4 separate regions of the Homo sapiens genome follow, and all the other regions are linked to region 2. Evidence: fine-mapped expression QTL. A gene starts in region 2. Each other region holds a variant in brackets. All regions are shown on one strand. Distances are from middle to middle. Region 1 overlaps MAPKAPK5 (MAPK activated protein kinase 5). Region 2 holds the start of HECTD4 (HECT domain E3 ubiquitin protein ligase 4). Region 3 overlaps TMEM116 (transmembrane protein 116). Region 4 overlaps HECTD4 (HECT domain E3 ubiquitin protein ligase 4).

What was found. PIP is the estimated chance that this variant, and not a neighbour inherited with it, causes the effect. A credible set is the group of variants that fine-mapping cannot tell apart.
Region 1: its variant is the best candidate, but not a certain one, in a credible set for the expression of HECTD4 in breast (GTEx, PIP 0.80).
Region 3: its variant is the best candidate, but not a certain one, in a credible set for the expression of HECTD4 in whole blood (TOPMed, PIP 0.89).
Region 4: its variant is the best candidate, but not a certain one, in a credible set for the expression of HECTD4 in blood mononuclear cells (TOPMed, PIP 0.68).

What each region holds. Positions count from the first base shown.
Region 1 is chr12:111,873,930-111,876,612 of GRCh38, forward strand. All of the region lies in intron 7 of MAPKAPK5 (MAPK activated protein kinase 5), which reads left to right. Among named protein-coding and RNA genes, the nearest start is that of MAPKAPK5-AS1, 32 kb to the left of the region's middle. The variant C/T (reference allele first, on the strand shown) is at 1,006.
Region 2 is chr12:112,380,833-112,383,515 of GRCh38, forward strand. HECTD4 (HECT domain E3 ubiquitin protein ligase 4) reads right to left here and starts at 1,599. Exons shown (of 76, transcript NM_001388303.1): 1 at 1,120-1,599. The coding sequence starts at 1,296. RefSeq lists enhancers at 1-57, 1,243-1,742 and silencers at 750-1,239, 1,250-1,519, 1,630-1,919.
Region 3 is chr12:111,997,771-112,000,453 of GRCh38, forward strand. The region is part of intron 3 of TMEM116 (transmembrane protein 116); the gene reads right to left. It also overlaps the pseudogene LOC724085. Among named protein-coding and RNA genes, the nearest start is that of TMEM116, 14 kb to the right of the region's middle. The variant C/T (reference allele first, on the strand shown) is at 1,575.
Region 4 is chr12:112,166,915-112,169,597 of GRCh38, forward strand. It overlaps HECTD4 (HECT domain E3 ubiquitin protein ligase 4), which reads right to left. Exons shown (of 76, transcript NM_001388303.1): 70 at 2,589-2,683; 71 at 900-1,003; 72 at 403-624. Among named protein-coding and RNA genes, the nearest start is that of MIR6861, 4.9 kb to the left of the region's middle. The variant G/C (reference allele first, on the strand shown) is at 1,303.

The DNA.
Region 1 (2,683 bases), 510 kb before region 2:
ATCTTAACAATATAAGTCTCCCAATCGATGAACAAGGTATATATCTCTCCATTTGTTTAGGTCTTTAATTTTCCTAAAAAATGTTTATGCTTCTTAATGTTACAGGTCTTGCACATATTTTCTTAAATTTATCCTTAAATTTTGTTTTTGGATGCTGTTGGAAATGATATTGTAAAACATTTCAGCTGGGCGTGGTGGTTCACGCCTGTTATACCAGCACTTTGGGAGGCTGAGGCAGGCGGATCACCTGAGGTCGGGAGTTCGAGACCAGCCTGGCTGCCATGGTGAAACCCCATCTTTACTAAAAATACAAAAATTTGCTGGGCGTAGTAGCCGGTGCCTGTAATCTCAGCTACTTGGGAGGCTGAGGCAGGAGAATCTCTTGAACCTGGGAGGTGGAGGCTGCAGTTAGTCGAGATCATGCCATTGCACTCCAGCCTGGGTGACTAGAGTGAAACTGCGTCTCAAAAAAAAAAAAATTCATTTTCTAATTTTAACTAGTTTATAGAAATACTAGTGTTTTTTGTTTGTTTGTTTTGGGTTTTTTTTTTTTTTTTTGAGATGGAATTGCACTCTTTGTTGCCCAGGCTGGAGTGCAGTGGCGCAATCTCAGCTCACTGCAACCTCTGCCTCCTGGGTTCAAGCAATTCTCCTGTCTCAGCCTCTGGGATGACAGGCGCCCGCCACCACACCTGGCTAATTTTTATATTTTTAGTAGAGACAGGGTTTCACCATGTTGGCCAGGCTGGTCTCGAACTCCTGACCTCAGGTAATCCACCCACTTTGGCTTCCCAAAGTGTTGGGATTACAGGTGTGAGCCACTGCCCCCAGCCATACTAGTGACTTTTTTTTTTTTTTTTTTTGAGATGGAGGCTTGCTCTGTTGCCCAGGCTGGAGTGCAGTGGCGCAATCTCGGCTCACTGCAATCTCCGCCTCCCAGGTTCAAGCGATTCTCCTTCCTCAGCCTCCCGAGTAGCTGGGACTACAGGCGCCCGCCACCACGCC[C/T]GGCTAATTTTTTTTCATATTTTTAGTAGAGACGGGGTTTCACCTTGTTAGCCAGGATGGTCTCAATCTCCTGACCTCATGATCTGCCTACCTTGGCCTCCCAAAGTGCTGAGATTACAGGCGTGAGCCACTGCACCCGGCCCATACTAGTGATTTTTGTATATTGACTTTGTGTCTTGGGACCTTCCTAAATTCATTTATTAAATCTAGTAAATTTTTTGTAGATTTATTAGGATTTTCTTTTTTTTCTTTTTCTTTTTTGAGAGCCTAAAAGTGGGCATGCCTCTTCTGTTGCTCGGCCTTTAGTGTTGGGTTTGAGGGTTAAATCAGTCTACTCAAAAGTTGAGCTGAGTGTGAGTTTTGTTGTTGCTATCGTTGTCTTCAGTGCCTCAGTGGCATGGGATTCCTGTTTTGTTACCTTATGGTTAGGTGGGATCTGAAATGCCATTTTTTTTAAAATTTAAAAAAAATTTTTTTAAAATATTCCACTTCTACCCTCAGTCTTGGCCTTGCTAGTGCACCTGTACCTCAGAGGGGATCTCTCTTTACAGTCTTGGCCCCCCCTTAGCAATAGATTGCTGTCAGTTACTGCTTGGTCCCTGCAAGCCTGCAGAAAGGGAGATGGCAATGGGGGACCGAGAGGTATCTGTTTCTCTGCTGTTGGGCAGGACCTGTGTTCTTGAGTCTCATGAATATCTGGTGGAAGTCTGTGCAGAAGAGTATGGGAGCAGGCATGAGTCTTCCTTGTTTGTATGGCTCCTAGAGGGTCTGTACTCTTATCCTAGCCCACATTTTGCCTTTAGCAGTTTGTTAAAAACCTCGCTGAATTCTTTTTACCCAAATGGCATGTGATATCACTTCCTCCTGCGCTCTGCCATAGGTGAGCCAGCTTTCACTCCCCATCTCTCCTTGGAAGGGCCTGACTTAAAGATTTCCGAATAATTGGTTAACCTGAGACCTGATCTTTGATGGGTTCAAAAAAAGTGATGGGCCGGGCGCAGTGGCTTACCCCTGTAATCCCAGCAGTTTGGGAGGCTGAGGGGGGTGGATCACTTGAGGTCAGGGGTTCAAGACTAGCCTGGTGAACATGGTGAAACCCCGTCTCTACTAAAAAGACAAAATATTAGTCGGGTGTGGTGGCAGCCACCTGTAATCCCAGCTTCTCGGGAGGCTGAGGCAGGAGAATTGCTTGAACCTAGGAGGTGGAGGTTGCAGTGAACAAAGATTGAGCCATTGCACTCCAGCCTGGTGACAGAGCGAGACTCCATCTCAAAAAAAAAAAAAAAAAAAAAGGATGATTTTATAATTTATCTTTGACACTTTCCAGCTTTCTATATCCTAGCAGAAACAGAAATCCCAACAATTTGGGTGGAAGGAGGGTGAGGATCAAAAAACTACCTATGTGGTATTATGCTTATATAAAACCTGGGTGATGAAATAATCTGTATACCAAACCCCTGTGAAGACACTGCAGTTCACCTATATAATTAACATGCATAAAGCACATGTACCCCTGAACCCAAAATAAAAGTTAAAAAAAAAAAGTCCCAACAATTTGATTATGTATGCATTCTTGTTCCTTTGTTTTTCCTGCCAGGGATCTCTTGAGCTCCTGGGATCTGTTGGTTTATGGTGTTTATCAAATAAACACCATATCAAATAAAAATTAGGAAATTTT
Region 2 (2,683 bases):
CACACAGTAATGGCTTTTAATTCATTTCTATAAATGTTCGTTGTGCGTAAAGCCAAACTGCACGCAAAACCGCAAAACACAAAAGATCCCTCGCATGCCGTTTATAGCCAGAAGATAGGCCATCCTCTCTGCGCCCTACCCCAGAAAGCTCTCCTTACGGCAGTAAAAATTTGATGACACCCCATGCTACCTACACATCAAAATGTCATCCCACAAAGTGGAAGGGGAGCAGTGTCAGCATCCGTTGGCCTCCATGAAACGACACTGCCAGTATTCCCACCTCTAGGCAAACACGAACCCAAGTGAAGTCGATGGAAAGTTCCCACCAACCAGGCATATTTGGTTCCCTTCTGCCCCCAAGGCCAAGCAGCTCAACTGATGAGATCTGCTGTTGCACCTGCCACGGCTCTGAACCCGGGATGCTTGGCGACCCCCGGGGCACACAAAAAGGCCCTGCGGCCTAACGCGCCAGTGACCCTTCCCCGAGAGTGCATGGAGGGCCGCTGGAGCATCCCTCTCGCTGTCCACAGCGCCCGCTTCCCTGACAAAGGCCCCGTGTCAATCCATCCGAGACACAACACAGAGAAGTTGCTGGATTGCCCATCGCGGACCCGCAGCTGCCACTACCCTCTCCCGGAAAAAAACCAAACCAAACCAAACAAAAAAAACAGAACTAGGGAAGAAAAGGATGGGAGGGTACACAGCGTGAAAATCAAAATGTTCCCAAAGCTAAGCAACCTGGGTGTGCCCTGGAAGTGGGTCCTGGGGGCCCGTGGGGGAGGGGAGGGAGGGCCCGGGTGGTGGCGGTGGCTCCTCTGGGGCATGAAGGCCGAGCCAGGCGCTAGCCTAATAAAATGCCGGGTGTCGGAACGCTCAAAAGAAAACCACAAATGAAATCCCCTGCGGGCGCCAGGCCCCGAGGAGGGAGGGAGGGAGAGCGGGGCGGGCGGTCCGCAGACCTGCGGCCGCGGCCCCACCTGCCCGCCCCGCGCCCACACACACCTGCCCCGGCAGCCGCCGGGAGGCGAGGCCGCGGCTGAGGCGAGGAGGGGGCCCGACCCGGGGGTGCCGGGCGAGTGGGTCAGTCCGATGGCGGGGGCCGGGGGCCGCCTCGCTCACCTCCAGGTCGGTGTCCGCGGCCTCTGGGGCCCCGAGGATCTCGCTGGGCAGCTCGGCCAGGTCGGTGACCCGGATCAGCCCGTCGTGCAGGAAGATGGTCTCTTCCTTCACCGAGAGCCACTGCGCCGAGTCAGCGGCCGCCGCCGCCGCCGCCGCCGCGGCCGCCGACGAGCCCATGGCCCCGGCTGAAGGCTTGGCGCTGAGGAGCAGACGCCCGGCCGGGGGAAACGGAGCAGGAGCCGCCGCGATCACCAGTCCATGGCAGCGGCCGCCGCGCCCGCCAGCGGCGCCCCACTTGCTGCCTCGCCCGTGCAACTCCGCCCTAGGCGGTCCGAGTCGCCATACCCCCGACCCCGGCCCGGGAGACCCCGGCCCTGCCGCCGCCGCCGCCGCCGCCGCCGCCGCCGCCCTCAGGAGCAGGATCCGCCTCTGCCGCTCGGCAACCAACTGTCAGTGAGACGCCATGTTGGGGGCGGGGCTCCCGGCATGCCTCGCGGAGCGGACAATACAGGCCCCGCCCGCCGCTCCGCCCACCGCTCCGCGGACGAGGCCACCCGGGTGGCCTGGACGTCCGCCTAGCCCTTCGCTGCCGCCTGCCCTCGGCCTGACCTCCGCCGGCCCCTTCTCCCCCTGGCCATTCAGGGTAGCCCTGGCTTTGCAGCGCGCCAGGGAAGAGGACGCCGCTTCCCCCGTCCTGTCCCTACTCAGGTGTGCACCCCTTGCTCGGGCCCGCGCCCCCACCCTGGGCAGAGCATAGAGATCACTCCTTGTTTTCACGTTTAAATGAGATGCAAGCAAAAGGCTGGCGCAGAATAGGCGCTGCACACTTGTTCATAAGCACTTGGTAGAATCACATAGTAGATGATTAATATTGACTGAAAAGTCTAGTACCCAGTAAGCACTCAAAACCTGGTGAAAATAAAGCGTCTGTCCACAATGCTTGGTGCTCAATGCCCGACACTTAATATGTGCTCCATGAGTGGCAATTCTAATTATTGCTATGTTCGTTCCATCAGTGTTCCACACTAATTGACATACACCTTAAAAATATGCTCACTAGGCCGGGTGCGGTGGCTCACACCTGTAATCCCAGCACGGAGGTCAAGGCAGAAGGACTGCTTGAGCCCAGAAGTTTGAGGCCAGCCTGGGCAACATAGGGAGACCCCATCTCTACAAAAAATAAAAATTAGCGGGGCAGGGTGGCAAGCGTCTGTAGTCCTGCTACTCGGGAGGCTGAGGCAAGAGGATCTCTTGAACTCAGGAGGTGGAGGCTGCAGTGAGCTATTATCTTGCCACTGCACTCCAGCCCGGGCGACAGAGGGAGACCCCATCCCTCCCTCCCCACCAAAAATATATATATGCCCACCAGTGCCATTTTATAAAAACAAGAAAGGAAAACTATATGTATAAAGAACAATGCATGAACAAATACACACCAGATGTTTAAGGTGAGTTGCCATGGGAGTGTGGGGCTGGTCTGGAACTACTGAGATGAGATTGTTCTCTATTACTTGTATATTTTTATCACTTAAAAAATAATAAAACAGGCCGGGCACAGTGGCTT
Region 3 (2,683 bases), 380 kb before region 2:
TTGCCTTGGCTAACAGAAACATAAAAAAGTGAAATAATATGTAATAAAACATTTAAAAGTATAAAGTATTTAATAAATATCAGCTATTATGTTAACCACATATGGCCTTTTCTCTGGGTAAGCTTGCTAAAATTCCAGTTGGATGGCACAGTCATAGATTCTACTGGCTTATGACCTATCATAAGTTTATAACTGTTAAGAGATTTAAAAATGTGAAATGGTGAAGTCAAGAAATATATAAAGAAAAATCTCTAAATTTAAAATGTTTTATTTGGGAAGCAAGAATTGCATTTCAGGGCATACACACAGACTGCGTGGTCTTGGACATGTCTGAAGAACAAAGAGATGACTGGGAGTTTTATTAGAAGGGAAATAGTACATGTTGTTTTGAAAGCAAGCTCACTGGCACCAAAGAAAGTTTTGGGAGTCGGCAAACTCTGATTAGTGAGTGACCGTGGTATGTAAAACTAGTCCTAAGAGACAGGGCAAGTCATTTTGGCAACTACAAGATCAAACTGGTCTCAGGGTTACATTGGACTATTTTAGTAGCTGGGCTTGTGAAAATATTAATTATTGGAGCAGGTGCTATGTGCTCTGAGAGCTTGTTCCCCTTGGCTTCTCGACTCCAATTTAGTTGGGTATGACAAGAATGATCCAATATGTATAATCAACTTTCACATAAATAATCCCTGGAGAAGAAAAGCAGCCATGCAGCTTTTGTGAGCAATAACATTCTGATCATTAATTCAAGAAATAGCCCTATGAGGCTGGGCGCAGTGGCTCATGCCTGTAATCCCCAGCACTTTGGGAGGCCGAGGCGAGCAGATCACCTGAGGTCAGGAGTTTGAGACCAGCCTGACCAATATGGTGAAACCCTGTCTCTACTAAAAATACAAAAAAATTAGCCAGGCATGGTGGCATATGCCTGTAGTCCCAGCTACTTGGGAGGCTGAGGCAGAAGAATCACTTGAATCCAGGAGATGGAGGTTGCAGTGAGCTGAGATCACACCACTGCACTCCAGCCTGAATGACAAAGCGAGACTCTCAGGAAAGGCAAAGGGGGAAAGGGGGAAAGGAAAGGAAAGGACCCTATGTATAGGGAGATGTTAAAACATATCAGAAGTCTTTGGCAGGGCAAAGGAGGACAAAACGAGGTGAGGTTTGCTTGCACTCAATTCTAATAACAGGAGATAAAGTTCAATCAATTATACAACAAAAATTAACTGAGTACCTATTATTGAAATCAAGAAAAATTCTACCCCTCCTATGTATAACAAGGCATTATTTTGAAGGAAATACAAAGAAATGTATAATATAGGTCATGCTCTTAAGAAAAATACAACCAGCCTAGTGCCTGGTAATAAAGAAAACCCAAAAAAGCATAAGATATGATCCTAAACATGAAAGCAAAAACTCTTAAAAAAAAACCCACATATATATACATTTGTATTTGTCCTTTTTTTTTACTTAGAAATTCAACTTTATTTACAAATGTTCTTCTATTTACAAAGAGGCCATTCTAGCTCTTTAAAAATATTGTAACTTGGCCGGGCGCGGTGACTCACGCCTGTAAT[C/T]CCAGCACTTTGGGAGGCCAAGGCGGGTGGATCACGAGGTCAGGAGTTCAACACCAGCTTGACCAACATGGTGAAACCCCATTTCTACTAAAAATACAAAAATTAGCTGGGCATGCTGGCGCATGCCTGTAATCCCAGCTACTCGGGAGGCTGAGCCAGAATTGCTTGAACCGAGACCCTGGTGACAGAGGTTGCAGTGAGCTGAGACTGCACCACTGCACTCCAGCTTGGGCTACAGAGCGAGACTCCATCTCAAAAAAAAAATAAAATAAATTATATATACATATATATACACATGTATATAGTAACTAATAATTTTCACAAAAACCATTTACATTGTTTCAAACTTTCTGTTTAAAACTGTACTATGAGATGAGCAAACAATCCCACAAGATGATTTGAGACATAAAAAAATAAATAAAAGACAACCTATCCAGCATGAATGTCCTATTGACAAACACAATGAAGAATTAAGAATCACAACCCACAGTGTGCCACTTCACCAAGAAATGGAACTGTAAAGATTTTGGGGGAGGTAAATGCTTCACAACAGTCTTCTTGTGTAGTATAGTTTAATTGTGACTGTTTAGGACTGCTCTTGCAGGCTAATATTTATGCTGCTTTTTTTTGTTTAAAGTCATCACTGTAGAAAGGGTAGACTTTTGTAGATTTTTCTAACAATGAAAATATGTAGACACTGGTCTGGTCTCATCATTTAGTCCAATTAATAAAATAATAAATGCATTAAAAAAGTAAAACAAAATCATCATGTGACTAACACAATTCTCCTTGATATATCAGAGAGTATTACTCCTCAATAGTGTCTATAAATTTGAATTATTCATAGATGAAACAATATACAAACAAAATAATTAACCAAGGAGTTCAAAATAAAATCACTCAAATTACCTATTTATCATTTTATGTGTAGCAATTACTTTTTTAAAATCCTTTAAATTTTATCTAGAGATAAGCATTCACATCATGGCTAAGTCCCAAAGAACTTCAAAACTTTTTAAAAAAATTCATCCCTCAGAAATGAGAGATAGAAAAATAACTTTAAAAACAGAAACAACAGTCTTATGCACTCTTTTAACAATCTCAGCACA
Region 4 (2,683 bases), 210 kb before region 2:
ATGCCTCCCCCTTGGTGGACCTCAGGTGGTCCCAGGGCTGACTCCTGTGCTCTGAGTCCCTGAAAAAACTCTTAACCTTCACCCCTACAGCTGTTCTCCCAGTGCCTGTTCACTCAGCTCCAGGAGCCCTTGCCCATGGCCAGGCAATGAGCACCAATGTGGGAGGGGAGGGCCAGCAGGGCTGGTCATGTCACCTCCAATCTCTGCTGCCAGCAGGGAGGGAGGCCAGAGGCCTCTGTCCCCATGAAATAAGCCTTCCTGGCACATGGCTCACACCCCTAAGGTCCTCTGTGGGATCCCAACCCAGCCTCAGCGGGGAGCTCGGGTCTGCATGGAGGCCTAAGCAAGGTGGCGGGGAGGCCCCGGGTTCTGCAGCCCCCCAGAACTGTGCCTTGCACTCACGCTCTCAAACTTCTTGACGTAATTGTAGGTGAGGATATCCGCTTCCTGCAGGTCTTGCTCAGGGTCCAAGGGCTCGCCCACCAGCGTCTTCCAGAAGGAGGGCAGGAGGTCCAGGGGCAGCGGGACGTCTGCCCGAATTGCAATCCCCAGCAGCTGCCCCAGGAAGTGCAGCAGCTGCTCCTCCCCGTAGGTGATGGGGCTCGGGGTCAGGATATACTTGCCCTGGAAGTGGAGGTGGGCATGAGGTGACCTGGGCGTGGGCCTCTGTGCCCGCCAGGGAACATGTGTTTCAAGCCACCATACCCTGTGGCAGGCAGGAGAGAAGTCACTGCAAGCTCCCAGAGCTTGCCCATCCAGTGAGGCAAGGACCTGTCCCCACAGATTGGGAGGGTTTCTGAAACGGTTTGGCTTTGATGAGACACACACTGCCCGCCACCCCAGCCACTGCGCAGGACATGAGCTCGGGGGCGTGGAGCCTCCTCCCGGCCTCTGCCTACCTTGTTCTTATTGACAGCTGAGCTGGGGCACAGCAGCAGCAGCGACAGCGAGGAACTCTGCAGCTCCTTACACACCTGCCACAGGAAGTGGCGGAAAGAGCCGCCTGTAGGACAGACGAGACACATGGGCACCTGGGGTGTCCCGGCGGGAGGCGACACCGTTCCCTCCCTCTCACCTGCTGGCTGGAGCGGCTACTCCTTCCACGGCCTACCTGCCGCTGTGGCGGGGTAGAAAGAAGCCACCCCAGGCCTGGGAGGCCTCAGGTCCAATCCTGCTCTCCACTCACTAGTGGGGCCACCCAGGGATACCACGGAGGGCAAGATGTCCCTGAGGCTCAGTCACCTGTCTGTCAAATGGGAGAGTGACCGTACCTACCCCGAAGGCCATTCGAAGATTCAGTGA[G/C]GTCACCGCAGGTCCCCACACAGGCAACCTCTCACAGCTGCAAGCCTGCCTGAGTTGTGGACTTGTTTGGTCCATGTCTGTCCCTCTGGGCCAGGCTGAGGGCAGGACCACCTGTTTCACTCAGCACTGCCTCCCCCAGTGCCCGGGCTCGCGTATGTCCGATGAATGCGTGAGTGAATGGACAAATGTGTGAATGTGCAAAGGGCAACGGTAACTGCTCATCCTCTCCCGCCGCCATTCAAGATGGGCCTTTGGTTTTGTTGTAAATCTCCTCTGGCCTTCCCTGTGTTCCCTATCGGTACCCTGAGGTCAGGGAGCTCTGAGCACAGCTGTGCCCACACCCTGCTTGGTAAGAGCCATGTGGAAACCCAGTGTGGGGGCCCAGTGCAGGGGCAGATGGTGGGCCTGGCCCTCACCTCTGCTTCAAGGAGAAGCAGGAGCGTCCTGACTGCTGACGCCTGGAAGGCCAGGGGCCTGGACCCTGGAACCCCAGCTGGCTGCATGACCTTGGGAAGTGACTTGGCTTTGTAGAGTCCCAGTTTCCCTATGTGTAGGATGGGCCAGGGCTGGCACTCTGGGCAGGTTCGCTGCTGTGGGAAGGATAAGGTGTCGAGCGTGAGTCTGGGCTGTCAGTGAACCAGAGTTGCTCTCAGAGAGGCCTAGGAGGCCTGCCCATAGGATGCCAGGGTCCCCCGTCTGGGAGGCAGCTGCGTTCCCGTGGGGGCAGATCAGAGGAAAGGGGAGAAGGAGCTGGGTGGGGGCTCCCTCCTGCCCGGACAGCCTTTCCTTCCAGTGTGCCCGGCTGTGGAGAAACTAGCTTTCTTCTCCATCTGCAGTGGACACGTTTCCTGAATGTCTGGGGCTAAGCATAAGAGGTCACAAGGGAGCACTTGCTCAGCTGCCAGTCCTCATCCCTGAAGAGTGCTATGGTGCCATCTTAACCAAGGACTCCCCAACACCCTGCCTCTCATGGGGCACACACAAGCCTTTAGGCCCACCAACTCCTCAGCCAGGGCCCTTCCCGGGGAGGGGGCCAATCAGCACCGAGGAGGGCCCTGAGCAGAGGTGCCGTCCCCAAGCCCAGCAGGGACTGGCCGAGGCTTCCACAGGGGGCTGGTCTGGAGGACACGGGCGTGAGGCCACTCTGGGTGCAGACCTGGCTTCTGCAGCACAAGTGCTGAGGATGTGGCTTTTACTCTTGGAAATGGAGGTCTTGGGCAGCTGGGGCTAAGGCTGGACACTAAACACAGCTCCTCCAGCGTGGAGCCTGGCGGGCCACCACTTACTGGTGCCATGGACCTCCTCGCCAGTGAAGCGGATGTTGAAGGCATATGTGGGGTCACCGCCACTGGCCAGCTTGACGCAGAGCTGAGACGACGGC